Regions from separate parts of the Homo sapiens genome. Here region 2 is linked to region 1. Evidence: fine-mapped expression QTL. A gene starts in region 1. The other region holds a variant in brackets. All regions are shown on one strand. Distances are between the middles of the regions. Region 1 holds the start of BECN1 (beclin 1). Region 2 holds the start of WNK4 (WNK lysine deficient protein kinase 4).

What was found. PIP is the estimated chance that this variant, and not a neighbour inherited with it, causes the effect.
Region 2: its variant is fine-mapped to the expression of BECN1 in whole blood (INTERVAL, PIP 0.94).

What each region holds. Positions count from the first base shown.
Region 1 is chr17:42,820,373-42,831,782 of GRCh38, forward strand. It overlaps BECN1 (beclin 1), which reads right to left and starts at 3,910. Exons shown (of 12, transcript NM_001313998.2): 1 at 3,783-3,910; 2 at 3,376-3,507; 3 at 402-469. The coding sequence starts at 3,505. It overlaps MIR6781 (microRNA 6781), which reads right to left and starts at 3,571; the gene lies at 3,508-3,571. RefSeq lists enhancers at 3,137-3,703, 3,704-4,272, 4,139-4,268, 4,273-4,839.
Region 2 is chr17:42,779,123-42,793,096 of GRCh38, forward strand. It overlaps WNK4 (WNK lysine deficient protein kinase 4), which reads left to right and starts at 1,488. Exons shown (of 19, transcript NM_032387.5): 1 at 1,488-2,194; 2 at 3,636-3,808; 3 at 4,815-5,035; 4 at 5,300-5,457; 5 at 5,975-6,063; 6 at 6,144-6,360; 7 at 8,156-8,420; 8 at 8,656-8,777; 9 at 9,008-9,066; 10 at 9,168-9,285; 11 at 9,559-9,675. The coding sequence starts at 1,577. VPS25 (vacuolar protein sorting 25 homolog) reads left to right here. Exons shown (of 6, transcript NM_032353.4): 6 at 1-477. RefSeq lists enhancers at 1,561-2,518, 3,808-5,007, 4,913-5,544. The variant G/A (reference allele first, on the strand shown) is at 10,517.

The DNA of each region.
Region 1 (11,410 bases):
TCCTAACCAGGATGCTTTTGAGAATGGAAAGGAGTGGATATTAACAACTAGCTAGAACAACAGATGCAAATCAATGCTCTAGAACGACCTGGACACACAGGTCATCCCATCTCCAACCTACAATAATTTATAATTCTGCTTCAAATAAAGAGCCCTTTCCAACATTTTAAAATGACTAATTCAGTAACCCTGTGACCTCAGGTGCAGATCTGTACCTCCAATGGTGCATAGCAGCCTGATCATGTAGAATGTCTCATTACCCAGAGATCCCAAAAGTCCGGGAGCTCTAGAAGCGCCAAGTAGCCTGCAGAAACCAAGCCTGCATTCCTGTTTTCATATCATATCTCTCATTTGGAATGTTTACTACATGAGGAGGATAGGGGAGAGGGCACTTCTATTACCTCTCCTGAGTTAGTCTCTTCCTCCTGGGTCTCTCCTGGTTTCGCCTGGGCTGTGGTAAGTAATGGAGCTAAGGGCAAGGAAAATATTGGGTCAGAAACAGTCTTATTAAAGCAGGAGGGCATCTGAAAGTATGGGAAAAGAATGTGAAATATTCTCATCACCACCCTCACCTCCAATTTTTCTTAAAGTACCATTTACACCAAAAGAATCTGTGGTCTTCCTCACCCCCATTAAATCAGATTAAAGAAATGTTCAATTTTTTAAGGCATAATGGTATCATTATTATTATTATTATTATTACTTTAAGATGGAGTCTTGCTCTGTCGCCAGGCTGGGGTGCAGTGGCACGATCTCGGCTCACTGCAATCTCTGCCTCCCGGGTTCGAGTGATTCCCCTGCTTCAGTCTCCCAAGTAGCTGGGACTACAGGCGTGCACCACCATGCCCAGCTAATTTTTTTGTATTTTAGTAGAGACAGGGTTTCACCATGTTGGCCAGGTCTTGATCTCCTGACCTCGTGATCCACCCGTCTCAGCTACCCAAAGTGCTGGGATTACAGGCTGAGTCACCGCGCCCGGCCGGTATCATTTATCTTTAAGAATCCTTATCTGTCAAAAATACAGAAATATTTACAGTATTTATGTTTGGGATTTGCTTCAAAACAATTCAGAGTGGGAAGGAATGGATGGGGCTGTAGACAAAACTTGATTAAATATGTGTTGATAATTGTTGCAACTAGGTGATGGGTACACAGGAGTTCATGATATACTCTGAAATTTTCCATCACAAAAGCAAACATCCTGTTTCCCCCAGAATAGCAAGGAGGGAACATAAGGAAACTTTCTAGGAAGATGAAACATTGCTAAATTGCAACGATCCAGATTACATCAGTGTATCCATTTGTCAAAAATGTACAGCTAAGATTCATACATTTCAAGTCATGACAATTTACCTTTCTAAAAAGGTGTGAAAAACATAATAATTGAGCAGAGGATGGGAGGTGAATGGAGGTGTAGACAACATAAGAATGTGAGAATATGGCTGATTATTGAAGCTGGATGATGAATACAAGGCAGGCTATGCTATTCTCTTGACTATATATGTCTCAAATTTTCCATAATAAAAAGTCAAAAATTGTTATTAAAAGAGTTTAAGAGGCGCGGTGGCTCACGCCTGTAGTCCCAGCACTTTGGGAGGCTGAGGCGGGCAGATCACAAGGTCAAGAGATCGAGACCATCCTGGCCAACATAGTGAAACCGTCTCTACTAAAAATACAAAAATTAGCTGGGCGTGGCGGTGTGTGCCTGCAGTCCCAGCTACTCAGGAGGCTGACGCAGGACAATCACTTGAACCCGGGAGGCAGAGGTTGCAGTGAGCCGAGATCGCGCCACTGCACTCCAGCCTGGCAACAGAGTGAGACTCCGTCTCAAACAAACAAACAAAAAAAAGAGCTAATTTCCCCTCAAGAAAGAGAAACCAGGTAATAATAGCAGCTAATACTTATTGAATACTATTTGCCCAGCAAATTCCTAAGTGTTTCTGTGGTTTGTCATATTTGAACTTTATAAATTCTTTATGAGGCAGTTTAACGTTTTACAGAAAAAATCAGAAACCAAGGCTTGGAGAAATGAAGTAACTTGCAAAAAGTTGTTCAGCTAGTAAATGACAGCCAGGATTTAAACCCAAGCAGGCTGACTCCAGGCCCATAAGCTTATTTAAGCTGCCTATTCAGTCTTCTCTTTTACTGTCTGACTTAATCTGAATTCTTCTGACTTTGCGGGATTTTGGGGTTTTTTATTTTTTTTAATTATAGAGACAGGGTCTTACTGTGTTGCCCAGGCTGGTCTCAAACTCCTGCTCAAGTGATCCACCTGCCTCAGCCTCCCATAGTGCTGGGATCACAGGTGTGAACCACCACTCCTGGCCTTTTTAATTAATTTATTTTTTGAGACAGGGTCTTGCACTGTTGCCCAAGCTGCAGTGCAGTGGCATGATCATAGCTTCCTGCAGCTTTGACCTCCTGGGCTCAAGTGATCCTCCTGCCTCAGCCTCCACCACCCACCACACCCAGCAATTTTTTTTTTTTTTTAGAGACAAGATCTCTGCTAGGTTGCTCAGGTTGGTCTTGAACTCCTGGGCTCAAGCGATCCTCCCACCTCAGCCTCCCAAAGCACTGAGATTACAGGCGTGAGCCATCACATCCAGCAAATTCTTCAGACTTTAAGACTCTACTCCATTTACCAGCTGTTGGACCTTAGGTAAGTCACTTAACCTCTCTGTGCCTCGGTTCTTCATCTGAAAAATGATGTAATGACGGTATACCCCGTACGGGTTGTTACAGGGACTAAATGAAGTAATACGTGTAATGCACTTGGTATTACTATATAGTAAGTCCTCAAAAAATACCATTTATTATTATATATACATATTCCTTTTCTCTGAAACAGCAGGAGCAGAAAATAAGGATCTTTCTTTTGCTACTGAAAGCTCTCTTTTTTTGAGACGGAGCCTCGCTCTGTTGCCCAGGCTGGAGTGCAGTGGTGCGATCTCAGCTCACTGCAAACTCCACCTCACCGGTTCAAGCGATTCTCCTGCCTCAACCTCCCGAGTAGCTGGGACTACAGGCACGTGCCATCACGCCCGGCTAATTTTTGTATTTTTAGTAGAGAGGGGTTTCGCCATGTTGGCCAGGCTGGTCTCGAACTCCTGACCTCAGGTGATCTGCCCGCCTCGGTCTCCCAAAATGCTGGGATTACAGGCGTGAGCCACCGCGCCCGGTCGGAAAGCTCTCAGAAGTCCACAATGTCAGAATGCTTTATGTTTCCAAGGAGAAAACAGGGAGCCAGATGAAGTGACTTTCCTAGGTTCACACGATGAGTTTGTGGCAGACTACACAGCCACCATAAGAATTATATCACCAAAGCTGCCCACCTTCCACATTCTTGACCACCCTCTTTCCAAGGGTCTCGCTGACCTGTGAGTTCCTGGATGGTGACACGGTCCAGGATCTTGAAACTCGTGTCCAGTTTCAGGGGCTGGCTGCAGCGCTGGCACACGAAGCTCACCTGCATGGTGCTGTTGTTGGACGTCTTAGACCCTTCCATCCCTGAGGCCGTGGAAAAGAGGCAACATTAGGGAGAAGCGACGCCCTTGACCTCCGGCCCGGGGTTACCACATGCCTTGGTGACGATGGTAAAGGGAGGGAAGTCCCAACCTGCGCCGTTCCCTCTAGGAATGGTATGATACGGGGAGGACCTGCTTCCGGGACAGCCTGAGCAAAGGCAGTTTAGAGCCCAGGGTCAGGGAAGGGACTCCAATAAGAGCCGTGAGGGTTCCCAGACTCCCTTCTAAGGTCCCACCTCAGCCCCCGATGCTCTTCACCTCGGGAGCCCGGAGCCCGTCACCCAAGTCCGGTCTACCGCGGAGGCACTGTGGCCTCGGGTCGGCCCCGGAGCGAGGCCTCCAGAACTACCATCGCTCTGTCTTCAGCGACTTCCCGGTAGCCGCCGGAAAACTTCCGCCCGAGACCGGACGTGACGCTACGACGGCAGCAGGAGCTCCTGGTCCACAGGCTCACAGGCCCGGCAGCGGCCCCCAGAGGCCGGGCTGGGAAAAGCAGCGGGCTTCAGCGGATGAACAAGGTTACCACGGGAAGTGTAGGAGCCAAGGCCGCAGAGAATGGGGAGGCTCCGCTATTCTCTAAATTCAGGGGGCGGCGGGCGCGGTGGCTCACGCCTGTAATCTCAGCACTTGGGGAGGCCGAGGAGGGCGGATCACGTGAGGTCAGGAGTTCGAGACCAGCCTGGCCAACACAGTGAAACCCCGTCTCTACTAAAAATACAAAAACTAGCCGGGCGTGGTGGGGCACGCCTATAATCCCAGCTTAATCCCAGCTACTCGGGAGGCTGAGGCAGGAGAATCGCTTGAACCTGGGAGGTGGAGGTTGCAGTGAGCCGAGATCGGGCCACTGCACTCCAGCCTGGGCGACAGGGCAAGGCTCCATCTCAGAACAACAACAGCAACAACAAAAGGCCGGGCATGGTGGCTCACGCTTGTAATTCCAGCACTTTGGGAGGCCGAGGCGGGCGGATCACAAGGTCAGGAGTTCGAGACCAGCCTGGCCAAAATGGTTAAATCCCGTCTCTACTAAAAAATACAATTAGCTGGGCATGGTGGCGTGCGCCTGTAATCCCAGCTACTCAGGAGGCTGGGGTAGGAAAATCGCTTGACCCCCGGAGGCGGAGGTTGCAGTGAGTCGAGATCATGCCACTGCACTCCAGCCTGGGCGACAGAAGGAAACTCCATCTCAAACCCCCCCCCCCCACACACACACACAAAACCAACAAAAAAAGAAAGTGATATTCAAATAAAAGCTTGAAGAAGGTGAGGAAGGAATTCTTACCTGCATCTTAAGGAAGAGCATTCTAGGCCAAGGGAACAGCAAGAGCACAGAGGGTACCTGTTTGGGGATTAGCAGAGGCTGGTGTGGCTAGAAGATGGGCAACGAAAAGAGATACAGAAAATGGGGTGAGGGAGGTAAGAGTGTTGAGCTACCACCTAGGCTCTTATAGGGATTGTAAAGCTCTGGCTTTCACTTTGAATGAGATGAGATGACTGGGTCTTGAGCAGAGGGACTTACTTCATTTTTAAAAACAACTTTATGGGGTATAATTTACATACCATAAGACTCACACTTTTTAAATGTACAGTTCAATAATTTTTAGTAAATTTACACAGTTGCCCAACTATCACCATAATCCAGTTTTAGAACATTTCCCATCTCCCCTTGCAATCCCCCACTGTGGCCTCCCAAAGTGCTGAGATTACAGGTGTGAGCCAATGTGCCTGGCCAAAAGTTTTTCATTTCAATAAAGTCCAATGTTTATGCTTTTGGTGTAAAAGAAACCACTGCTTAACCCAAAATTGTATGTAGTATTGTCTATTTTATTTTTATTTTGAGACAGTGTCTTACTCTGTTACCCAGGCTGGAGTGAAGCGGAACAAACAAACATGGCTCACTGCAGATTTGACTTCCTGGCTCAAGCAATCCTCTTGCTTCAACCTCCAGTGTAGCAGGGACCACAGGTGATCACTACCATGCCCAGCTAATTTTTAAAATTTTTTGTAGAGATGTGGTCTCACACTGCACTCCAGCCTCGGTGACAGAGCGAGACGCCATCTCAAAAAAAAAAAGAGATGGGGTCTCACTTTGTTGCCCAGGCTTCTGCTTTTTAAATTTAACATTTTTCTATGTTGCTACACAGTTATTGTAGTTATCATGGCTACATTACACTACACTAAATGTACTGCCTTAGTGTATTTTTTTACCGCTGGAAATTCTACTATTTCCCCTGTGGGTGATTACAATAATCCTGCAATGAAGAGCTGGCTACTTATGATAGAGACTCATAACTGGGACTACAGAATTAAGAGTGTGTCAGCTATTTAATGTCTCTTCCTTAACACTGGGAATCATTTTCCAAAGTGCTTGCACATAACTATATTCTGCTTCCAGTAATGTATGAGGAAGCCTGTTTTCATATTGCCTTGGCCAGTATTGGGTATCATATATTTGGGGAACAAAAGCAAAAAATGGCACTTCCTTGTTATTTTAATTAGCATCATTGATTGCTGGTAAGGCTGAACTTTTTGCTATGTATTTGCTTATTGTAGTTACTTTTTTTTTTTTTTTTGAGATGGAGTCTTGCTCTGTTGCCCAGGCTGGAGTGCAGTGGTGCCATCTCGGCTCACTGCAACCTCTGCCTCCTGGGTTCACGCCATTCTCCTGTCTCAGCCTCCCGAGTAGCTGGGACTACAGGCGCCCACCACTACACCCGGCTAATTTTTTATATTTTTAGTGGAGACGGTTTCACCATGTTAGCCAGGATGGTCTCAATCTCCTGACCTCCTGATCTGCCCGCCTTGGCCTCCCAAAGTGCTGGGATTACAGGTGTGAGCCACCATGCCCGGCCTTTTTTTAAAAAAAAAAAAAAAAAGAGACACGGTCTCACTCTGTCACCCAGGCTGGAGTGCAGTGGTGCAATATCAGCTCACTGGAATCTCCGCCTCCCGGGCTCAAGCAGTAGTTACTTTTTTCTGAATTATGTTTGCATTCTTTGATTATTTAGGTATTGGATTATTAGTATTTTTCTCAGTATTTTTAGTAATTTTTCATGAATGCTTTAATTATTTTCCAGATGTTCAGGAAGTTTTAAATTTTCAAGTCAAATCTGCTTATTTTTCTTGATGACTTATACTGCTTAGAAAGTTATTCCCACCTCCAGAAGTGTCTTTCTTTTCTTTTAAATGTATGTGGTTTCTTATAGTTGGTATTGGATGTGATATGTGGAACTAGATTGATTTTTCTCCCGGTTTTGTGACTAGGGATAGTGTTTACAATCCTTCTTCCTCTTGGCTCTTTCAGCATGAAAGCCCCTTTAGGGGAGGTGACTGGAATCATCCCCAAAGAATTCTCACCTAGTCCTGGTGTGGCTGCTTCATAGTCCTGCGTTTCTTCCTGCTTGGCTGTCCCTAACATCTCAGAAACGCATAGAGAAGTAACGGGCTTCTAGAGAGGTAGGGGGTATAGTGTTACAACTGAGGATTTGGAAGTTGAGACCACCTGGTTCTTTACCATCCACTAACCATGTGACCTTATGCAATTTATTCAACTGTTCTGTGCTTTGTTTTCTTATTTACAAAATGAGATTAATAGTATACAGTAGTAAATATCATAAAGGGTAGTGTGATAAATGAGCTGATACATTTGGAATGGAGGGGAATGACTGTTACATAGTGAATGCTCTGTGTATCCTCACACTTGGGAAGTATATGTAATCAGTGTATGTAGTGCTTGAGGGATTGTGAATAATACACAACATATCCTCAGTCATCGATTCAACAGATGTTTATTGAGCATCTACTATGTGCCAGTCCCTATTCTAGGTCTGAGAGGATATACTGGTGAACTGCTCTAATAGTTTATATTCCAGAGGAGAGAATTTGACAGTAAACATGTAACCAAGTTAATAAGATAATTTCAGATAATGGCAGATATTATGGGTTGAATGATGTCCCCCAAAAGATGTTGAAGTCCTAACATCTGGGACTAACACATGGGAATGTGACCTTTTTTGGAAATAGGATCGTTGCAGATGAGGTCATTGATGTTAGCCCTAGACCAATATGACTGCGTCCTTATAAATAGGGGCAATCTGGACACAGAGACAGACATGTACCGTGTCTGAGGGAAGATGATGTAAAGAGACACAGGGTGATCTGTAAGCCAAGGAAGACCTGAGGCTACCAAAAGCCAGGAAAGAGGTCTGGAACAGATACTTCTCTGGCTCCCTTAGAAGGAACATGGTCCTGCTGACACCTTAATTTTGGATTTCTGGCATCCAGAACTCTGAGACAATATATTTCTTTGGTTCTAAGCCATCCACTTTGTGGTACTTTGCTACAGCAGCCCTAGAAAGCTAATACAGTAGGTAAGAAGGTGATGTGATAGAGAGTAAGTGGGGGCAGGGTGGGAGGAGCTGCTTCAACTGGGGGATTCAGGAAGGCCTATGTTATCTGGAAACCACTGAGGGTGGTAAGTAGGGAAGAGACTTGACTGGCTGACTTAAAAAGAAACTATTTACGGGGGGATAGAATACATAGGGGAAAAGACACAAATCATACATGTATTTTCAATGAATTTTTACAAAATGAACACGTCAATGTAACCAGTACCCAACTCCCTCTCCCATGCCACCCTCTAATTGATGCCCACCCTAAGGGCAAACAATATTGTCAATTCTAACACCCTAGATTGAGTTTTGACTGTTTTTTGAATTTCATGTAAATGGAATCATACATGACATACTCTTGTTTCCTTTCGCTCATCATGAGATTCACCCACCTTGTGTAGTTTTAGTTCATACATTCTCAATACTTTGTAGTATTCCATTGTGTGACTATATTAAAATATAGATATCTCTCTTGCTGTTAAGAGGCATCTGGGTAGTTTCCAGTTTGGTCTATTGTGAATAGTGTTGCTATGAACATTCTTGTTCATGTCTTTTGGTGAATATATTTATGCATTTCTCTTGGGTGGGTCCCTAGAGTTGAGGTTTCTGGGATCTCTCTCTCTCTCTTTCTCTTTCTCTCTCTCTCTTTAGGTATATTCAGCTTGAGTAGATGCTACCATCTCTGTGGCTGACATATTAGCAGATTATTTTGAGCTGGCCTGGTGTGCACCTGTAATCCCAGCTCCTCAGGAGGCTGAGGCGGGAGGATCACTTGAGCCAGGAGTTCGAGACCAACTTGGACAACATAGCAAGACCCTGTCTCAGTCAGTCAATCAATCAATGATAAATTTTGGTGCTGAGTGAAGAACAGAATGTGACAGTTGGTGGGGGGTGGCAAGAGTGGAAATGGAGAGACCAGATAGGAGCCTATTGTAATAGTCCTAGCAAAGGATGACAGTGGCTTTGGCCAGGGTAACAAGAGATGGAGGAAAGCACACTCATACAGGATGCATTATACAGGGAAAGCTGACAGGACCTGCTGATGGGTTGAATGTGGAGAGACGAGGAAAAGAGAGGAATCAAGGTTGACTGTTAGGTTTTTGGTTTGAACAACTAGGTGGACAGTTATGTCAATTACTGAGATGGAGAAGAATAGGAAAATAACAGGTGTGTGGGAGAATCAAGAATTCTGGTTTGGCCATGTTAAGTTTGATATGCTCATTAGGTTTCCAAGTAGAAACATCAAATAGATGGTTAGAACTCAGTGAAGATGTCAGATGGGAGATACGAATCTGGGGCCCTCAAATCAGCATACAGATTTTTTTTTTTTTTTTTTTTTTTGAGATGGAGTTTCGCTCTTGTTGCCCAGGCTGGAGTGCAATGGCGCGATCTCGGCTCACCGCAACCTCCACCTCCCCAGTTCAAGTGATTCTCCTGCCTCAGCCTCCCGAGTAGCTGGGATTACAGGCATGTACCACCACGCCCAGCTAATTTTGTATTTTTAGTAGAGACGGGGTTTCTCCATGTTCAGGCTAGTCTCGAACTCCCAACCTCAGGTGATCTGCCTGCCTTGGCCTCTCAAAGTGCTGGGATTACAGGCATTAGCCCCCGTGCGTGTCTGGCCGAATACAGATGATACTTAAAGCTATGAACATGCATAGATCCTCTTTTTTTTTTTTTTTTTTTTGAGACGGAGTCTCGCTCTGTCGCCCAGGCTGGAGTGCAGTGGCGCGATCTCAGCTCACTGCAAGCTCTGCCTCCCAGGTTCACGCCATTCTCCTGCCTCAGCCTCCTGAGTAGCTGGGACTACAGGCGCCCGCCACCACGCCCGGCTAATTTTTTGTATTTTTGGTAGAGACGGGGTTTCACCGTGTTAGCCAGGATGGTCTCTATCTCCTGACCTCGTGATCCACCCGCCTCGGCCTCCCAAAGTGCTGGGATTACAGGCGTGAGCCACCGCGCCTGGCCGAACATGCATAGATCCTCTTAGGGAGAAAGTGTAAGCAGAGAATAAAGGACCTAAGTCTCCTGAAGCATGCCACCATTAAGAAGTGGAGCAGAGGAGGAAGAGCCAGCAAAGGAAATGGGGAATCACTGTTGAGGCTGGAGAAAGATCAGAACAGGTTGCTGTGTGTATTTTAAGAAGGGGAGTGGCTAATATATTGAGTACTACTGAGAGATTCAAATAAGATGAGAGGTGACCACTGGTGTCAACATGGTAGTCATTGGTAACCTAACAAAAATTATATCAGTGAGAAAGTGGGGTTGAGAAGTCTGATTAGAGTGGATTGGAGTAAATGGGGCATGAGGAAGTAGAGTAAGAGACAATAAATAATTCAAGAAGTCTTGCCAGGAAGGAGAGCACAGAAAGGGAGTAACAGCTACAGAGGAATCTGGATTCGGGGGGGAGTTTTCTCAAGATAGGGGATATTGGTTATGTCTGGAAATGACCCAGCAGAGGATGTGATGTAGGAAAAAGAGGGGCTAATCATGGGCACAGACATGGGATTGAGAAAGTCAAAGGGGATGGAATCCAAAGCACAAAAGGAAGAGATAGGAACAGGTTTGTTTCCTTCAATGAAAGAGGAAAGGCAGAAAGTATTTTGCAGATTGGCAGATTTGGTGGTGAGATGATGAGGTAGTTCTCATCTGCTTCTGTTTTCTCAATAAAGAATGAGCCCAGGCCATAAGTTGGAGGTGGGAGAGAAGGAATACTGGAGGTTCAGGGAGATGAGAAAGTATGATAGTCATTGGGAGGGTGGGAGAGCAAACTTGTCAGGAGCATGTAGTAGGAGCTCAGGCAGTGTTGTGCACTCATTTGAGATTTTGGGACATGAATTTAAAATTAGACCAGTCATCAGTGATCACATGTGACTTGTAAGCACCCAGAAATGAATAGTTATTGTTAAGTGTAGTGGTACTCTCCAGTTGTTCACTGAATAAACAAATGAATGGAGTATTATATTAAACACTTGGATGGGGAGGAGGAAGGGAAATAAAGAGAATGTGTATCTGTCTTATAACCTACTTGAAGGAGACAAAACATAATTATTTGAGAACAAAGCATATTTTAACAGGCACAAACATATTAGCTTTTCCAGTTGATGTTATAAATTCTGACTGGAATAAGAATAGTGGCATACTTAAAATAGAATGGAGTAAATGTGGGAAATAATTCCTGAAGTTTCAAATCGGATCTCAAAAGTTCCCAGGGAAATGTGTTAACAGAAAACATGTAAAAGGGGGAAAACTGATAGAGCATGATGTTATATGTGGCCTTCTATAAGCTGAAAAGGACTTTGAGCTTGAAAGCAGGAATGGAAATAATTACTGTAATTTAAGGAGTAACCTCTTCATGCTAAGCATTAACAGATCACTTACTTACCTGACAGTGGCTACTATTTATTTTGTGTCTAAGCACTGTGCTAATTGTTTTACATATATTATTTCTAATATTCACAACACTACAAAATTACATACTATTATTTATTACTAATT
Region 2 (13,974 bases), 40 kb before region 1:
AGGAGACAGACCCAGTGTCCCCCAAAGACTGGATCTGTGACTCCACCAGACTCAAAAGGACTCCAGTCCTGAAGGCTGGGACCTGGGGATGGGTTTCTCACACCCCATATGTCTGTCCCTTGGATAGGGTGAGGCTGAAGCACCAGGGAGAAAATATGTGCTTCTTCTCGCCCTACCTCCTTTCCCATCCTAGACTGTCCTTGAGCCAGGGTCTGTAAACCTGACACTTTATATGTGTTCACACATGTAAGTACATACACACATGCGCCTGCAGCACATGCTTCTGTCTCCTCCTCCTCCCACCCCTTTAGCTGCTGTTGCCTCCCTTCTCAGGCTGGTGCTGGATCCTTCCTAGGGGATGGGGGAAGCCCTGGCTGCAGGCAGCCTTCCAGGCAATATGAAGATAGGAGGCCCACGGGCCTGGCAGTGAGAGGTGTGGCCCCACACCGATTTATGATATTAAAATCTCAACTCCCACTGCCTGCCTCTTAAATTACTACAGTACTGGAATGGGGATGGGGAGGGCTGTGAAGTGTTGCCACCTGAGTAAATCCCAGCCTGGGAGAGGGGAGAGAAAAGAAAGCTTATGGCTTTTGTAGAAGAAAAGGTCCTCCAGGGCCCTGTGGGCTCCAGTGAGCCTGTGGTTTTACATCTGCTGGGTGGGCTGTGTGGAGGAGTGCTGATGGAACACAGCTTGGGGACAGACTGCTTTCTCTCTGAATTGGAGTCACTTAAGGGCTCCCCCTTCCCTCACCATCTCCCTCATGGAAGTCCTGAACTACTCTGAAGCCCCTCCCTCCACCCATCTGGTCTGGGTGGGGTAACTGTGGCCAAGGGGAGCTGAGGGGGGTAAGCCGGATGTGGACTTTGGTTTATTGGAGACTGGCAAACAGAAGGGGAGGAAGGAGAGCCCATATAGCAAAAACAGCCACTCTGGCCAGGGTTAGGCTGCGGCCAAGGTGGCCTGGAGGGGATGGATGACCGGGCTCTCGGTTTGGGGGAGGGACTTATCCTGGGGAGTACACACCCATTCCCTATGCAGACCAGAGGGACAACAACGTCAGACCTTTCCACTGACCTCTCCGTTCGGCCTGGGGCTACTCCGGACAGTTAGGAGGGGGTGGTGCTGCCTTATCTGGGGTGTGCAGGAGGGTGGTAGCCTCCCCCTAAGTAATCCCCCACTAGGGTCCGGGTGTCGTTCTCTCCTGCCCTCCTCCGCGCACAAACAGGTTTGCTCACTCTTAGTGCGGGAGGATGCTCCGCGGTCTCCCACTCAGTTCTGGCCTCAGAGTGAGACTGCGGCCGGGGGCTCGGGAAAGAAGGGGACGCGGCTGGGCGGGGCGGTGACTAAGGTGAGGGGCTGCTCGCGGGATCCGCACCGCGGGAGCAGCTCGGAGGGGCGGCCCTGGGGGGCAAGGGCGGGCCGCGGGGCGGCGACGGGGGCGGGGCCAGGCCGAGCTGGGGGCTGGGGCCGCAGCCGCTCAGCCGGAGCGCAGCGCACCCAGCGAGTCCGTCTGTCAGGCCGCCTCCTCTCCGGCCGTCTGATTTTCTACCCTTCGGCGCCCTGCTCTTCCTCATGTTGGCATCCCCGGCCACGGAGACCACCGTCCTCATGTCCCAGACTGAGGCCGACCTGGCCCTGCGGCCCCCGCCTCCTCTTGGCACCGCGGGGCAGCCCCGCCTCGGGCCCCCTCCTCGCCGAGCGCGCCGCTTCTCCGGGAAGGCTGAGCCCCGGCCGCGCTCTTCTCGTCTCAGCCGCCGTAGCTCAGTCGACTTGGGGCTGCTGAGCTCTTGGTCCCTGCCAGCCTCACCCGCTCCGGACCCCCCCGATCCTCCGGACTCCGCTGGTCCTGGCCCCGCGAGGAGCCCACCGCCTAGCTCCAAAGAACCCCCCGAGGGCACGTGGACCGAGGGAGCCCCTGTGAAGGCTGCGGAAGACTCCGCGCGTCCCGAGCTCCCGGACTCTGCAGTGGGCCCGGGGTCCAGGGAGCCGCTAAGGGTCCCTGAAGCTGTGGCCCTAGAGCGGCGGCGGGAGCAGGAAGAAAAGGAGGACATGGAGACCCAGGCTGTGGCAACGTCCCCCGATGGCCGATACCTCAAGTTTGACATCGAGATTGGACGTGGCTCCTTCAAGACGGTGTATCGAGGGCTAGACACCGACACCACAGTGGAGGTGGCCTGGTGTGAGCTGCAGGTGCGGCTGGGAGCCCCCTCGGTGGCACCTTGGGATGGGACTCTGGAGGTCTTAGGATGACAGACAGAGGGTGGGGGAGACAGCATCAAGGGAAGCATGTATTTTTCCAGTCAAATGTCTATAGACACCTCTGCTGTCTTTGCCCTGAATGATCTGGCTGACTCTGGGCTGCAGAAGGAGAGATTGAGGCAGGTGGTGTCTGGTGACTCCCCCATGGGTATGAACATTCTCACTTTAAAGTCTCCATACTCAACCCTGAGAGGTGGAAAATAGGATGGGAAGTTAGGCAGGGGAGCCAGTTCAGGTCAGTTTCCTGCTGGTGGGTACCCGCAATCCCTTCCTCTCCCCTAAGTCCTGAGATCCTCAGTTATGACCCTGGTCCTCTTGATCCCCTCACTCCTCCCGTCCCCCACCTATTTGCAGACCAGGAGGCTGGGATGCGGGAAGCCAGGAGCTGGGCAAGGGTCATCTCCAACTCCAGAAGATTTAGGGCAGTTGTGGCAGAATAGGGCCCCCTAACCCCTTCTGGAGCAGTCAGACTTCTGGACTTCTCCACAGCTGCGAGGAGGGGGACATAGGGAGCTCCAGCTCTCGAGTGAGTCCAGTTCTGCTCCTCATCCCACTGCCTACCTGTGCTCTCCCTTCCCAGACCTAAAGGCACTAAGCCCATGGGCTTTAGGGGGACCTTCCTCCCATTGCTCCCATGCTACATATGGGTTAGGAGAACCCAGTCAACTTGGGGCCTGAAGCTTCCGATTCAGATCAGGGGACAGAGCCTAGGGGAAGGGTCCCTCTCCAGCCCTGGCACAGGGCTCGCCCCTTGCGCCTGCCAGTGCCGCGCCCCAGGCTCTGGGCCAGGCCAGGAGAGGCAGCCAAATTGGGGGGTGAGGGGAGGGAGAGGAGCCGGGGCGGGACGACTATGGGGGTGGGCAGCCTCCTGGCGCCTAGTCCTGGATCTTTTCTTTCCTTCTCAGTACCTCCCTCCATATCCCTCCCGCCTTCCGTCTGGATCTAGCAGTTCTGTTTCTGGGGCCAACCCCCTTGCCGGCCCCAATTCCCTGCCCGCAGTATCCTGCTGCCCGCCTGCTGCCTGCTCACTGCCAGCCCCCGGGTGCCCCCTCCCGCCCCATGGCCGGCCTGGGCAGCCACAAAGGCACTATTGAGCTCAGGGCTCTGGGACCGGGCTGCATAAAGGTGCTTGTGTCCAGCAGGGGGTCTAGGGGGCTGCCCCAGGCCCAGGTTGGGTGTGTCCTTGGATCAGCTTACGTGCGGGACTGTTGGAGAGTTCAGGGTCTGCAGCCCACTGGGCAAGTAATCCCATTAACCCCACCCCATCTGTGGGCTCCAACCCTCACCTCTTCCCCCAACCCCACTCCAGGTGTCCCTCTTCCTTTCTGTGGGTGTCCTGGGCCTGACATGACACCCGTCCCCCATCCCACAGACTCGGAAACTGTCTAGAGCTGAGCGGCAGCGCTTCTCAGAGGAGGTGGAGATGCTCAAGGGGCTGCAGCACCCCAACATCGTCCGCTTCTATGATTCGTGGAAGTCGGTGCTGAGGGGCCAGGTTTGCATCGTGCTGGTCACCGAACTCATGACCTCGGGCACGCTCAAGACGTGAGCTCTGCGCATGAGTGGGTGGGGAGAGGGAGGCTGGGATGTGTGCCCACTGCTTCCTGAACTCCCAGGCTCCTCAAACTCTCTAATATCCAGGTGTAAAACCAGGTTCACCATCTCCCTCTCACCCAACCTTTGTCCCTGCCTCGGTGAGTGGCAATGTCCACCCAGCACTCCAGTAAAATACTTGGGTGTCTCCCCAGACTCCTCTTTCTCCACTCTGCCCCCTCATCAGTCTGTCCCCAAGTCTTTCCTTAACCTCTCCCCACCTGGCTTTCACTGCTTCATCCATGCCACCACCTCAATGCCATCTCGCTGATCTGGAGCCCTGCAGCAGCCTCCTAAAGGGCCTTCCCAAACTCTGCCACCCTCTAAGCGATCCTATCTTCCTGCAGCCTGGAGAATCTTTCCCAGTTGAAAATCTGAACTGTCACTCCCCTCCTTAAAACCCCTTCAAAGTTTCTCATGGCCTTGGAATAAAGCCCACACAGGCTCACCTGTTCACAAAGTCCTTAGGATACAGCCTCACTTTCAGCCTAAGCTCCAGACACACCAAATTCCTGGCACCTCCTCCCACCCTGCCTTGTCACTGGCTTTTTCTGTGCCTTTGAGCACGGTGTCCTGTCTGCCTGGGAAGTCTCCATCCCTTCCCCCTTTCACCTTTGAGCTCCTACTCATCATTCAAGATGCAACACAAAAGTATTTCCTCTCCGAAGCTCTCCCTCATGCTTGGGGCAGTTAGTCATCCCTTCCTGCGCTCCCACAGCACCTTGGCCGAGGCCCTATCTATCAATTTACTTCCCAACCCGTTTGGTAACGTCATGTCTATCCACCATGCCCCCTGACTCAGTTTCTCCCTGGGGCCGGGCAGACATAGGCTAGGAGAATGCTGGCAGAAGATGCGGAGGCGGCAGCAGGGTGCGGCAGGGGGGAACTTCCCAGTGGGGGGCTCCTTCCCGGAGGACGTGTCCCCCCACCAGGACTCTGGCTATGCGCCCTCCCCCAGGTACCTGAGGCGGTTCCGGGAGATGAAGCCGCGGGTCCTTCAGCGCTGGAGCCGCCAAATCCTGCGGGGACTTCATTTCCTACACTCCCGGGTTCCTCCCATCCTGCACCGGGATCTCAAGTGCGACAATGTCTTTATCACGGGACCTACTGGCTCTGTCAAAATCGGGGACCTGGGCCTGGCCACGCTCAAGCGCGCCTCCTTTGCCAAGAGTGTCATCGGTGCGTCTCTCCAGGAGGGTCCATGCCATTCCTTCCTCCCCCACCTCAGAAGAGAACCTGGGGACTCCCTCCCCTCAGCAAGGGCCTTCAAGGTCCACAAAACTACCAGACGACAGGGAAGCTGAGGAGACCTATGGCACCCACCTCAACCCCACTGTGGGCCGGGGTCACTTGCACTCGCAGGGTTGCCTGGGGCTGCCTAGCCCAGTGGGAAGGACGAGGCCAGAGTGCCCAGCAATCTGATCCCTGCTGTGGACCCTACAGGGACCCCGGAATTCATGGCCCCCGAGATGTACGAGGAAAAGTACGATGAGGCCGTGGACGTGTACGCGTTCGGCATGTGCATGCTGGAGATGGCCACCTCTGAGTACCCGTACTCCGAGTGCCAGAATGCCGCGCAAATCTACCGCAAGGTCACTTCGGTGAGAGGGATGGGGCTGGCGGGAAAGGCAATTCCAGGGCCACTTCCCCTTTTCCTGCGCCGGCCAGCCCGCAGTCAATGCCCTTTGCCTGCACGAAAACAGGCTAGACACAGAGTCGCCTTGGTGAACACAGAAGGATATTGAGTGCACACGCGCCCCCACCAGTACACGCTATTTAGAATAATAATATGTGTGGTGCTCCCAAGAGTTCACAAATGATTTCGCATCCCATCTCTCATCCAATCCTTCCAGCTGCCCTGTGAGGTGAGCGGGGCAAATGTTCCACCCTGCGATTTACAGATGAACAAACAGCGGGAGACTTGTTCAAGATCACACTGTAAATACTTGGGGGGGGGGCGGGGATTAGGATTTGAAATCACATCTTCCAGTAGCAGTCAGGCTTTTGCAACTGCACGCGCAGCTGCCTAAGGAGGGAGTGGAGTAAGGGGTGGGGGGTGGTGTCAAGCCGAGAGCTGGGGATCAGAGGACGGGAGGTGTCATGCAACCCCTTCCCCAGGGCAGAAAGCCGAACAGCTTCCACAAGGTGAAGATACCCGAGGTGAAGGAGATCATTGAAGGCTGCATCCGCACGGATAAGAACGAGAGGTGGGGGTGAAAGGGCAGAGCGTGGGTAGAATAGGGCCGCGGGCCGCGGCGGGCTCGGCTCACCCACGCGTCACCCTCAGGTTCACCATCCAGGACCTCCTGGCCCACGCCTTCTTCCGCGAGGAGCGCGGTGTGCACGTGGAACTAGCGGAGGAGGACGACGGCGAGAAGCCGGGCCTCAAGCTCTGGCTGCGCATGGAGGACGCGCGGCGCGGGGGGCGCCCACGGGACAACCAGGCCATCGAGTTCCTGTTCCAGCTGGGCCGGGACGCGGCCGAGGAGGTGGCACAGGAGATGGTGAGCGGAGGACAGACTGTGCTGCCACTGGACGTGTAAAGGACATTGACTCGAGGGGACAGTGCAACAGGGATGGGGCGCAGGAGGGGTGGCAGCGATGGGGGCGGGGCACCTCACCCCTCTCAAAATCTCCTGCAGCGTCTCCCTACCTCTCCAGCCCTAACTTACCCGCACGCACACCCAGTTTTCCTTTACAGAGGGAGCCCTGGGTCCTCCAGCGTCCCTGCTTTACCTCCAGCTGATCTGTTCTTCCTGGGATGCCCTTCTTGCCAATTCATCTTTTCCTTCTTTCCTCCCTCCCCATTTTTCTTTTTCTTTTTCTTCCAATATGATCAGAACCATCGATTTCGGGAAGCCGTCCCCTTTGGAGTCAAACTTAAATGCTTCTTTCCACTTCAGCATGTTCTCGGTTACAGCACTCCCCACTATCGGTCCTGTCTTAAACCTGAATAAGTTCCTATCTTTCTTCTCCACTAGACTATAAACTCCCTGAGGGCAGAGACTGTGTTTTATCGATTCTTCTATCCCTGGCAGTGCTTGGCACATAGTAAGAGCTCATTAATAGCCTACATCTGTACATGGCTTAAAGCACTTTCACATGCATTTGATCTTTGCTACCCATCCTGCATAGGGGGCAGTTTTATCTCAACTTGTTGATGAGGAAATGGAAATTCAGAGAGGTTGAATACCTTGTCCAGGGCCCCAAGTAAGTAAGTGGAAGAGCTGGATTGAAACTGAGGTGGTTCAGATTTTAAATCAGGTTACCCTTCCCCACCTCCTTTACTCATTCAGCAAAGCTTGCGGCTAAAAGGAATGAGGAGGTGATGAATGGAAGCTGGTAGAAGGGGAGAGGCATAAGATGCAAGGGCAGAAGCTTGGGGGCTGGCTTAGGAAGTCCTGAAGGGAGTATGGGATTCTTTTTTTGGGAGTAATGGAGTCTCACTCTGTCACCCAGGCTGGAGTGCAGTGGCGCTATCTCAGCTCATTGCAACCTCCGCCTCCTGGGTTCAAGCAATTCTCCTGCCTCCGCCTCCTGTGTAGCTGGGATTACAGGCAAAAGCCACAACGCCCAGCTAATTTTTGTATTTTTAGTAGGAACGGGGTTTCACCATGTTGGCCAGGCTGGTCTCGAACTCCTGACCTCAAGTGACCCACTAGTCTTGGCCTCCCAAATTGCTGGGATTACAGGTGTGAGCCACCGTGCCTGGCCGAGTATGGGATTCTTAATAGAGACATGACAGTTGCAAGGGTGGAGACCACCTACGGTAGGTCAAGAATCTGAGAATGTGTTAGAAATTTAGAGCAGGTCTCCATAGCACGGCCCAACCTGACCTGAGATCAAATCTTGATCCATTGCTGACAAGGGATTCTTGGCCTTGGCACTGTTGACATGTTTGTTTTAGGGACTGTCCTGTGCATTGTAGGATGTTGAGAAGAACCCCTGGCTTCCGCTCACTAGATTCAGTAGCACCTACCCTCCAGTTGTGGCAACTAAAAATGTCTCTAGATAGTGCCAAACATCTCTTCTTCCCATTGGAAACCACTGACTTACTGTATAACTATGAACCAGCTACTTCATTAATCTCTAAAAATCGAATGGTAAGATTTATCCCACAAGGTTGTTTGGAGGATCTAGTGATGATAATGTAAGGAGCTGCCAGTTAACAGACATAGTGGGTAATCAGTAAGTGTTGGTTTTCTTCCTCCCATATCCTGGAGTTCCCAAGAAGGCGTCCTGATGGATCTTTGATAGGGGGTCCCAAGCTGTGTTCCTCATCCCCCACCCCAATTCCAGGTGGCTCTGGGCTTGGTCTGTGAAGCCGATTACCAGCCAGTGGCCCGTGCAGTACGTGAACGGGTTGCTGCCATCCAGCGAAAGCGTGAGAAGCTGCGTAAAGCAAGGGAATTGGAGGCACTCCCACCAGAGCCAGGACCTCCACCAGCAACTGTGCCCATGGCCCCCGGTCCCCCCAGTGTCTTCCCCCCTGAGCCTGAGGAGCCAGAGGCAGACCAGCACCAGCCCTTCCTTTTCCGCCACGCCAGCTACTCATCTACCACTTGTAAGTCACCCCTGATCTTGAGACGTAGGTCCCAGAACACCTTGGCCTCTGCCCCCTACCCAGAAGTTCACCCCCACAGCAGTCACTTACCCTGCCTTCCACCTCTAGCCATGAAGCTCCCTCCAGGAAGGAACTCTCCCACAGCTCCAGGCCCCTCCTTGCTTAGGCAGGCCCCATCCTCTGCCACTATTCCCTTTTATTTCCCCTTTTTTTGATCCTCTCCCTCCCCAACCAGCGGATTGCGAGACTGATGGCTACCTCAGCTCCTCCGGCTTCCTGGATGCCTCAGACCCTGCCCTTCAGCCCCCTGGGGGGGTGCCATCCAGCCTGGCTGAGTCCCATCTCTGCCTGCCCTCGGTGAGAGGGGGTCGCATGGGGGGCTCCCAGCCATTCCAAGCCTATGACCTATCTCCCTCCTTGTGAAACCCAATCTCATGATCCAGTCCCATGTCCCTGGAAATCCACCATTCTTGCCCTCCTCTTCCCTAATTCCATCTCCCTAATATCCTCCCAGCATCCTTGACACCATCTCCCTAGATCTCAACAGTTATCTTCCCCTGACCTCATGAACCCTTATCCTGTTTCAGGCTTTTGCCCTATCCATTCCACGTTCTGGCCCTGGAAGTGACTTTTCCCCCGGGGACAGGTATGTTCTGGTACAAGTTGGGGTGCCAGGGTGAGACACCTGGGGCACTGGGGTCCCAGTGTCTGCTCTGACAGTCATTCTCTCTCCTTTCTCTTTAACAGCTATGCCTCAGATGCAGCTTCAGGCCTTAGCGATGTGGGAGAAGGGATGGGACAAATGAGGAGACCCCCAGGGAGGAATCTCCGGCGCAGACCCCGATCCCGGCTGCGGGTCACTAGTGTAAGGATGGAGTACAGGAGATAGAGAGTAACCTACAGGGCCAGGAGGGAAGTGTCAGGGGGAGGCGGGGGAGGTCACCCAGAAAACGGGAGAAGCAGTGTATGACTAGTACTCAAGAGGCGGCCAGTCTGGTTTCTAATACCAGACTTTAGAGGTGGGGTCTACTTATCTCCAAGTCCATTGTGGCTGCTGTCACTTGGCTGGGGTAGGGTGGAGACACAGCATGATGAAGAGGGCTTGACCTTCTCCCCTCTGCTGACTTTGAATCTGAAGGTCTCAGACCAGAATGACAGAGTGGTTGAGTGCCAGCTACAGACCCATAACAGCAAGATGGTGACCTTCCGATTTGATCTGGATGGGGACAGCCCGGAAGAGATTGCAGCTGCCATGGTGAGGGGGAGAGAGATGAGGACAGAGTGTTTGGATCTGGAACAAGAGTCTCCTTCCTGATGTCCGCTGGGGCTGAAACCCACTGATCCGACAGCAAGCATTTTTAAATCTCTGGTTGACACTTAGCACAGTAACGCTGAAGATGTCTCAGCCCTTGTTTTGGGGGAGATTTCTGTTTATCCAGTGAGGTTTGGCTTCTCAGCTGGAGCAATTTGAGACTCACATTGACCGGGTACACACAAGTGCTACGTATAAGTGCCTGGTAGATGTGCAATACTGTGGCTGTAGGTGAAGGATGGACTGGGCAGCAGGGGCAATGAGCTTACCCAGGATCTTGGCAAATGGGCAAGAAAGGCTGTGAAGGGTGGAAAGGCCATGAAGGGTGTCCCTGTGCAGGGACAGCATAAGCAAAGGCATTCCAAGTAGAGAGTGTCTTGGAATATGGGGCTGGGAGGGCTTCATGAGGAAACCACTATCACTGGAAGTAAAGATTCCTATAGGAGAGTTGTGGGGAGTGAAGCCGGGTAGGTAGAGTGGGCCCAGATTGTAGAATAGACAATGTTAAGAGTTAGGCAGAGGCCAGGCGTGGTGGCTCACACCTGTAATCCCAGCACTTTGGGAGGCCGAGGCCGAGGCAGGCAGATCACCCGAGGTCAGGAGTTCAAGACCAGCTTGGCCAACATGGTGAAACCCCGTCTCTACTAAAAAATACAAAAATTAGCTGGGTGTGGTGGCGCATGCCTGTAGTCCCAGCTACTTGGGAGGCTGAGGCAGGAGAATTGCTTGAACCCGGGAGGCGGAGGTTGCAGTGAGCCGAGATCACACCATTGCACTCCAGCCT[G/A]GGCGACAAGAGTGAGATTCTGTCTAAAAATAAATAAATAAATAAATAAATAAATAAATAAATAAATAAATAGAGAGGCAGAGCAGGCTAGGTCCAGTGGCTCACACCTGTAATCCCAGCACTTTGGGTGGATGAAGTAGGAGGATTGCTTGAGCCCAGGGGTTCAAGACCACCCTGGTAATATAATGAGACCCTATCTCTACAAAAAATTTAAAAAATTAGCCGTGTGTGGCGGCACATGCCTGTCATCCCAACTACTTGGGAGGCTGAGGTGGGAGGATCACTTGAGCCTGGGAGGTCAAGGCTGCAGTGAGCTTTGATCACGCCACTGCACTCCAGCCTGGAAGACAGAGTGAACTTTGTCTCAAAAAAAAACAAAAACAAAAAAACAAAAAGGCACAGTGTAACGTGACAGTAGGCTTTATGAAAATCATCTGCCATGGGATGTGGAAGGGGGAAGGGAAAATACCTGGGAGGTAGACCCAGGAAGCCATCTGTGGACAAAGGAGAGAGTGGCTTATGGGAGGGAAGAGGAGAAAGGGTGAATCTGAGGGTTGTTTCGGGAAAATAAGTTACTCTGTAATCCAGTAACCTATTGACGTAGTAGAGAACATAGTACATAGTAGATGCTCAATAAATATTTGCTGAGTTGATATGATTGGGAGTTAGGGAGAAGGGATGTCAAGGACAACTTGTAGGCCACCAAAGGAGAGTAGGAGAGTAGGCCACCAAAGGAGAGAGGAAATTAGAAATGAAAGAAGGTTTTTTTTAAGGAGGTCATGATGAGCTTGAGTGAAGAAGGGACAGCCAAGACAAGACCCTCCATAGCCATGGATATGGGTCAGGCAGGGCTGGAGAGATGTGGATGGAGGAGTAGTCAGTACAGAGTTGAGAGTGAAGGGAGATGAGCCGGCAAAGCCAGAGACACAGAGGGTTGCAGAGTGTGTCTCAGCGCATACCACCAGTTCTGGAGTGGGAAGCGGGAGGGTAGGTCATCGAAGGACACAGAGACAAAGCCAGAGACGTAGGAGGATGTTAGTCAAAACTGAGTGAGGAGAGAGTTTCAAGGAGGTGGCATAGGATGAATCCTCAGGCAAGACCACACTGGCTTTTGTTAGGAGATCTTTGTGGGAGACCAGTTTCAGTGGAGTGGGGGTGGTGGATGCCAGCCCATGGGGTGAAGGAGGGAAAGGAATGGGAGAAACACCAGGCATCAGGAGCCCTCTCTAAAGCATCTCCTCCATCATGTCATTCACCTTGTGTCCAGGACAAAGACACAATATCACCTGGCACACAAGGCTCATCACCTTCCGTCAAACCACTTGACTCTTTCAGAGTCTTCCATCCAGCCACACTGGTTTCAAAATGGGCCTCTGAAAAGGCTGGGTGCCTTCCTGCCTCTGCCTCCACCTCCTTAAGGGTCTCTCACTCGTAGAGCCTTCTGTATTGGGCTTTCAAGTCCCCTCTGATCCTGCACAGCCAAAGTGACCCCACCCCATGCACCCAGAGTCCTTTGCCCTCTTTTCTCTCCTTACCCAGTCCACCCTCCACTCCTCTGCAGCAGAATTCTCCTGAGACTTGGATCTGATCTCTTGATATTCACCCGAAATTATTTAGTGGCTACTTGTGGTTGTAGAGTAAGGTCCAAATTCCAAAGCCTTTAAAATTCACAGCACATTCAGCTACACTTGAGTCCTCACTATTTTAAGAATAGGCTGTGCCGGGCATGGTGGCTCACGCCTGTAATCCCAGCACTTTGGGAGGCCGAGGCAGGCAGATGACCTGAGGTCGGGAGTTCAAGACCAGCCTGACCAACATGGAGAAACCCCGTCTCTACTAAAAAATACAAAATTAGCTGGGCGTGGTGGCGCATGCCTGTAATCCCAGCTACTTGGGAGGCTGAGGCAGGAGAATCACTTGAACCCAGGAGGTGGAGGTTGCGGTGAGCCACGGTCATACCATTGCACTCCAGCCTGGGCAACAAGAGCGAAACTCTGTCTCAAAAAAAAAAAAAGAAGAAAGAAAGAAAGATTGAATAGGCCGGGCGCAGTGGCTCACACTTGTAATCCCAGCACTTTTGGGAGGCTGAGGCAGGTAGATCACTTGAGGTCAGGAGTTCGAGACCAGCCTGGCCAACATGAAGCCCTGTCTCTACTAAAAATATAAAAATTAGCTGGGCATGGTGCCAGGCAGTCCCAGCTACTCAAGAGGCTGATGCAGGAGAATCTCTTGAACCCAGAAGGTGAGGTTGCAGTGAGCCAAGATTGTGCCACTGCACTCCAGCCTGGGTGATAGAGCAAGGCTCAGTCTCAAAAAAAAAAAAAAATAATAATGTACCATGCCTTTCATGCTTCAAAGCTACTACACTGTTCTCTCTGCCTAGACTGCTCTTCTCTTCCTGATGAACAGCCTGGAATAGAGGAAGGGGTCGCTTTCATGTAATACCTAAGTTCAAACTTCAGCTCTGTTATTTACTAATCCAATGAACTTAGGCAAGTTTCTTAACTCTGTAAACTTCAGTTGCATGTAAGTAAAATGCAGATGATAGTATTTGTTTTGCAAAGATGTTCTGATACGACACAGTGTAATGTAGAAGTGTCCACACATGGTAGGTCCTCAATAGAGATTGCTTTTCTCATCTGTCAATGTTCAGCTCCAAAGACTTACTCTGTGAAACTGCTCCAGCTTCCCCCTATCCCCAGGGTGGTATTCTGTCTTTGGAATAGCATTTTAAAAAATTGTGATTAAAAAACCATAAATATAAAATTTACCACCGTAACCATTTTTAAGTGTACAGTTCAGCAATATTAAGTATATTCACATTGCTGTGAAACAGATCTCCAGGGGTTTTCTTACCTTGCAAATCTGAAACTCTGTACCCATTAAACAACTCTGCCTCTCCACACCCCCATCCCCCCAACCCTGGAACAACATTTCTATCTATATCTCACTTGTAAGTGCCTTACGTATTACGGGCTGCCTTGCAGTAAGTTTAATTACGTATTTATGTGTCTCCTCCACTAAGTTTTGGGCTTCGTTAAGCCTAGGACCTTGTTTCATGCTTCCTTGTATTCCCACAGTACCCAGCACAATGCCAGCACATAGTAGGTGCTCAATAAGTATTCATGGATTTGAATGTGACATTTGCCATTTATTGCCTTATTCTGACTTAACCGTGTGGGATGGGTGTATGTGGGCCTGTGTGTTATACTTTATAAACACTATGGGGCAGAAATTGTGTCCAAAACATGGGAGGCAGCAGTGAAGATAACTCAGGCTCTGGCTTTAGGTAGATGTGGGTTTAAATCCTGTGACCTTAGGCAGACGGAACTTAACCTCTTTGAGCATTGGTTATCTTAATTCTACCATAGCAATATTAATGTGGGCCCCAGAAAGTTACTGGTGGTGTTAAATGTGATAATATACGCAAAGCAGCTGGTATATATACGCATCCTATG